Regions from separate parts of the Homo sapiens genome. Here region 1 is reported to be linked to region 2. The links are microRNA targets in miRTarBase. Many come from high-throughput screens and were not tested one by one. Region 2 holds a microRNA gene; the other region holds the end of a gene's coding sequence.
Evidence for each region. Region 2 holds the annotated microRNA hsa-miR-100-5p (AACCCGUAGAUCCGAACUUGUG, at 1,040-1,061, opposite strand). A microRNA usually pairs through its seed, bases 2 to 8, with sites in the 3' UTR of a target mRNA and lowers its output. Matches are read on the target gene's strand: a 7mer-m8 pairs with bases 2 to 8, a 7mer-A1 pairs with bases 2 to 7 and ends in A, and an 8mer does both.

Region 1 (3,103 bases), not on the chromosome of region 2:
TTCAAGACCAGCCTGAGCAACATAGTGAGACCCTGTCTCAAACGAAAAAAAAGGATAAAAAGGAAGGAGATCTAGACATACCTAGTGACAGAAAAGTGTTCGTGTTTTACAGTTGCAAAATAAGCTGTCATTTTGGTAAATGTATGTTAAGAATCTCTTTGGCGTGCAGGACCATGGACAGTGTCCACTGTCCTCTCTGTATAGCCTAGAATATATTACAATGAACTTCCATTACCGCTCTAATGGGAGAAGAACAACAGAAAGAAAAAATTGGTCCAGTGAGGAGCTTCAGCCCCTGGGAACTGGTTTATGGCCGAGTCTCAGTTCCTTGCCTGGCATACCACACAGCTCATGGTGGTCCATGTCTCCTGGCTCCTCTTGACTTCCTGCCTCCCTGCCTCCCTCTTCCTAGGACGCTGTTTGTGACTGTAGTACCCAGTCTCTCACCTCCTGCTTCGCCCGATCGTCCCGCTCTGCCATCCGCCACTCTCCTTCCAAGTGCAGGCTGCACCCTTCAGAGTCCAGCTGGGGTGGGGAGGAGAGGGCACTCCCCCCCAGCGAGTGACAGAGCAGCCAAGCTCCCCGCCTCAACCAGCCCAGCCCCTGGATAGCAGAAGGGAACCAGCAGAGACGAGACGAGGTGAGGCGAGGGGCTGTGTCCTCAGCATTGCCTGGCCCTGGAGGGACAGCAGTGATGCCACTGCCAGAATGCAGCTTTCACATCAAGGTAAAGCCGGGTCTCCTGCTGGCCCCTGGGTGGTGAGCTTCGACTTCCCAGGGGAAGGCAGTGAGTGGGAGAGAGACCAAACCTGGGCTTCCCAAGCATCCACTGAGAGATCTGTCAAGAGCCGATCCCTGGGTCCTAAGAGAGAGCCTTGCCTGGTTCTGCCCATGCCACCCTCTTGGAAGAGCCCAAGAAGGATACATGTCTGGCCATGCCTTTGGGGAAAAGGAGTCGGAGAGATGTTTCCTGCTGACCATCCACCCCTTCATTTGGGAGGAGACACTGCTGAGAAGAACAGGCTTTGCTCTAGGGCTCCATGTTTGGTTCCTGGTGGAGCCCTGTTGGGCATCATCACCATCACCTCCTTCTCTCCACCACCTCCTCCTCCCAGCCCCACTGCTCTAGATTGCTGGGACACTAGGGAGTATGATAGGGCAGTAGCCAGGGCCATTGCTTAGTGTCCTGGAGCCCTGGATCTCCCTGCCCATAGCCTGGATGCAGCAAGAGCTGGGAGGCGAAGTGGAAACATGCAGGGCTCAGGGTTGGGGAGTGATTGCAATTGCCTTCCTTGCCAAAGTGACTTGGGGCCCCAACGTTCCCAGCAGACCCCTTGAGGACAGAAATAGGTAGAGTCAGTCTCAAGACCTGGTGCATAGATAAATGCCTAAATACACTGCCTTGATCTCAAGTGATCTCAGAGGCCTCTTTCCCTGGCACCCTGAGAGGCAGCAGGCACTACATCTCCACTGTGTTTACATCCTGCAGCTGGTCGGGGGGCAAAGATATTCCCAGTAAGAGATTCTTGGTTGGCCAGGTCAGGCCCAGGAGAACACCAAGAGGCCAGAGCCCAGGACACAGCAGTAGACTGGGGCCTGGAAACACGTATCTTGCCTAGATTGTTTATTTGAATTTTTCCTACTATAAATATTTAAGGTGGTTTACTTTATTTTAATAATTTAATTTACCCCAAAGTCCCTAAGGTAATTTATTGGAGGTTGAAACATGCATTCTTGCCACTGGGACAACATGAGGCCTCTAACAGCACGGGCAGGCATGGGGTCCCCTGGGTGGACGAGGCCGCTTGGCAGCCAGGTTTGGAGACCTGGCCTCCTGGTCAGCTTTGGAGGGCCCCTCAACAGAGCTGGAGCCCTGCACCCCAACACGGCTGGCCATGTGGCCTCAGAACACTACTTATTACTCAATGCCTGGTACTTGGCCAGCCCCAGCGGTCAGTCTATAAATACTCACTGACAAGGTGGAGGGCTGGACGGCCATCACCACTCCCCAGACGTTCTCCATTGCCTGTCTCATTTCCCTCCCTCCCTCTGACACCTTTCTTCATGAGTCGAACGTGGATTACTAAAGCTCTATTAAGAGTGTGGAGATCCCTCCAAGTTTCCCAAATGAGAACTCACAGGAAAACAGGACTGAACTTTGAGAATGTTGTTTATCGCAGCTTTGCACATAAACCTGAGTGTCTCCCAGCCTGCCTCGGTTCTCACCAGCCTGCCAGCCTTTTCACCAGCCTCTCTCCTTAGCCTTATGGCCTTTCACGGCTCTTCTCCCTGCCCCAGCTCTGCTGCCCGCCCTTCCTCACGTCCCCTGTGAGCTGCCTGAGCCATTGGTTGGATTTCGATGTGGCTCATTGCAGCATGTGGGGCAGCGCCTCCCATGGCCTCGCCTTGGTGCCGGTGAACCCCTTTTGGTTGCACACATGCTCCCCACACACACATAGACATCAGCCTTCCTGTAACTGACTGGGGACCCAGAGTGGAAACACCAGGATGGATCAGCTTGTCTGCAGAATTGCCCATCAGGAAGACCAAAAGCCAGTAGCTTTGCTGATCTGCCCCCAGGACTCTGGAGGCGCCCCTGCACTCCCACCTCCCACCTGCCAGTTCCCAGACCCACCCATTCGGGATCACCTGGACCAGTTACCCCAAGTCCTGCATCTCCCTTCCCTGCAGGCTGAACACCAGGGTCATGCCAGTCCCGCCAGCCGCCTCCTCCATGCCCCAGTGACTGGTGTGGGCAGAGCAGGCAGCCAGTGGAGCTGTGGGCCAGTTCCGCTCTTGGATGCTGCTGCTCTCACCCATGAGGTCAGGGGGGCCCTCCAAGGTTATCTCCAGGTGAGGGGATTCACATCAGGCCACAAGCCACCAGAGGCCTTCTGCCACCTCCCAGAGCGACAGCCAGGGAGGCTGCGTACTCAGCCTCGGGGAGAAATCCCCGTGGGACCTGAGCCCCAAGACCTACGGACCACTCAGCCTTACCATCGTACCGTCCAGGATTGTCCTTGCCATCTTTGTTGTCTCAGCCAGACCTTGGTTTTCAGTAAAGCCCCAGTTTCTACTTCCTGCATGCCACTGTGCAAGGCCA
Region 2 (3,103 bases):
CTTTTCTCTAATGTTAACCCACCAACTACTTCATGTTGACTTTTTTTGTTAGAAGAGGACACACACACACACACACACACACACACACACACACACACACATCTTAAGGGAACTTCTGGCACTATGTTTTACCAAAAGGGCATGCAAAAGTTTTAGAGTCATCCAAATCTGATCAACTTTTCACCCTGGGTTCTAGTTCTGTTTACAGACTCCTCAGCTCACATTGTTGGAATGAAACAAATATAGCCAGTTTTGCTTTGATCTGTGGTCAGTTTAGCTTTTCAATCCTGGCACAATGGTGACATTTAAGAGGCAAGAGGATAAAATTATTTTCATTCCAGCGTTTTAAACAGGATAAAGACTTATAAAACAGCTCTGGCCAAATATGAATTTGGACCTAAACAGGCGATCTCTTTTTTATAAGAAGTCCTTCTTACACTGCTGGATATAAATAGAAGTATAAATAGTTAGGCAGTTAAACACATCCATTCTGATTTATCAGTCCTTATCTTCAGAAGCAAAATTATTGGGGAAATTGGGGGAGGAAGAATTGCAACAAAGGAAAACCCAAAAACCCAAATCACGGTGAAATTGGTCCTGTAAACACATCTGCCACTTTCCAGAAAATATCATAATAACTTTGAAAACAATTAGGCTTACAGAAAACAAAACAAACCCTTGTTTATCTCTTTACTCATCACTCAACAGTAAGTTGTTCCAATCACTCAAATTCTTGCTGCCTCACCTGTAAGCTCAGCCTTCTAATTTGACAGCAGAGACCAGTTACAAGAGATATGGGAATTGAGGGCCAGCCTATTAATTCATCATTGAAGAACCTCATTCATTTCAGGACAAAAGGTCTCCTTCCTCCACCTCAGCCCCCTTTTCCATTTTTATCACTCTTAAAGGAAACTAAGGGGAAGAGAAGGAGAATGAAATAACTCGAAGGGATATTGAATGGCATATAAGCAAAGCCCCAGGTCCGTGAGATTGCCTAACAGACACATACCTATAGATACAAGCTTGTGCGGACTAATACCACAAGTTCGGATCTACGGGTTTGTGGCAACAGGCCTCAATATCTTCTCTCTTTTGGGGCTGTGACATGTCTGAAAATAAAATATTACAACCATTAATCCAATAAAAGAGTCTACCATTCAATTGTTTTATGCCATAAATGGAAAGGACTTCGTCCCACTCTCACAAAAGCAAAAGTTAAGCAATATCTTCTATGTTCTCCCCAACGTGCTTCCCTTGGTTTCCACTTTTTCCACAAATCCAGTGGACTTTAGGTAAACCTCATCATTTTACTGTTTATATATGGAAGACTCATTTATTCACTGCTGAACACATAATCTGGGCAAAGTGATACCAAAATGGCAAACCAGCAGAATAAAGAAAATTCTTTAAATTGTAGGCAGAGAGAAAGAACACATGAGAGCCCAAATGCAAGTCCATTCCTTTAAATACCTGTCATTACATTAAAAATGATGGTGAAATTTTCATTTTCCTATTTGCATTCTGGAAAACAACTAGAATAAACTTAGCAAGTACTACCAACGGATTTATAGGTATATTTTTTTTTTTTTTGAAAACCACTCTAGAGTAGATTTTCAGGTATATTAAGATCCATCTTCGGGAAAAGTTTGCATTTTTGTTCCCACCCCCATCCCATCCCCACACTTATTATTGATTCAAACACCAACAATGAGCAAGTTTGGGTGTACTCTGTAAAATTTGAACCATAGAAGAAATTACATAGTTGTTCCTCCTTCCCCCCGCACCCCCCGCCCCCCGCAATACTGTTTGAAAAAACAGGGATGAATCTGTTTCAGAGACCTTCTTATAAAATGATTGCATTTGTCAACATAACATTTTTTTTCTGCAAAGCCAATGTTCTACATATAAGAAGGGAACATCCAAGACAATGGACTTTCATTAACGACGCCTTTTGTGAATTGTATTGAAGACAGGCATAATCATAAGCACTTCAGGGACATATATTATACAGCTAAATAACTCCCTGTCCTAGATGCTGGGAAACACACATGACTCCATCCCTTTACAGGACCTAAAAAGAGACCTTTTTAACTTTTGTTAGCTATAATTATGGATCCTGGCTCTCAAAATAATTATCTCATTTGCCTCAAAAAATGGACATTCACTCCTTTCTCAAGAATCTGGGGCCAGGCACTGGTGGCTCATGTGTGTAATCCCAGCACTTTGGGAGCCCAAGGCTGGCAGATCACTTGAGGTCAGGAGTTCAAGACCAGCCTGGCCAACAGGGTGAAACCCTGTCTCTACTAAAAATACAAAAAAATTAGCTGGGCATGGTGGCGTGCGCCTGTAATCCCAGCTACTCTGGAGGCTGAGGCATGAGAGTTGCTTGAGCCTGGGAGGCAGAGGTTGCAATGAGCCGAGATTGTGCCACTGCACTCCAGCCTAGGCAACAGAGTGAGATTTTGTCTCAAAAAAAAAAAAAAAAAAAAAAAAAAAGAATCTGGGAGATGAACTGAAGCCCTACCAAGGGGAACAAAAAAAGACAGAGCTGAATTGAGGAATTATTCAGAGAAAAGAGCAGGCCCTCGTGTATGCAACCTAAAAAGTTAAATAAAGAGAACAGGAAACCAACAGTACGATGAACAGAAACTGAGACATAACCATTCATAGATACTTTGTTGTTTCCCCATCTCATCACAAGTGAGCTGTGGTACAATTGCTCAGAGCCTGCTGGTGCTGTGAAGGTTGGCAAAACTGAGAATCTAGTTGTAGCTCTGTGGCTTAATTTTCAGATCCAAAGAAATAACAATAGCAAGTGGAAGTAAGTAGTATCCAAATCAGTCACCCCCAGATGGTCTTTATTTATTTTATTTTAAAATGTTCATTTCCTTTCTAAAATAAAAGACTTTTAAATAAGCTCTGAGCTGCTTCTTTTCCTTCCGTCTCTCTGACAAAGGCATGGGGCTAGAGGTATTTGAGGATGGCCACTTTGAACCCTGTTAAATATTGCTGGAATGTGGGGGATGTAGGTGCTCCTATTATAATGGAGCAGAATAAGCCCAACGTCCCAGAGTAATGAGAATGAATTGTTATCATCACGCTT

Region 1: the mRNA of MTCL2 is a reported target of hsa-miR-100-5p. The part of its 3' UTR that is shown has no 7-base or 8-base seed match.

What each region holds. Positions count from the first base shown.
Region 1 is chr20:36,783,947-36,787,049 of GRCh38, reverse strand. MTCL2 (microtubule crosslinking factor 2) reads left to right here. Exons shown (of 15, transcript NM_080627.4): 15 at 413-3,103. The coding sequence ends at 565. Among named protein-coding and RNA genes, the nearest start is that of DSN1, 12 kb to the right of the region's middle.
Region 2 is chr11:122,151,236-122,154,338 of GRCh38, forward strand. MIR100 (microRNA 100) reads right to left here and starts at 1,073; the gene lies at 994-1,073. All of the region lies in intron 4 of MIR100HG (mir-100-let-7a-2-mir-125b-1 cluster host gene), which reads right to left. MIR10526 (microRNA 10526) reads right to left here and starts at 921; the gene lies at 868-921.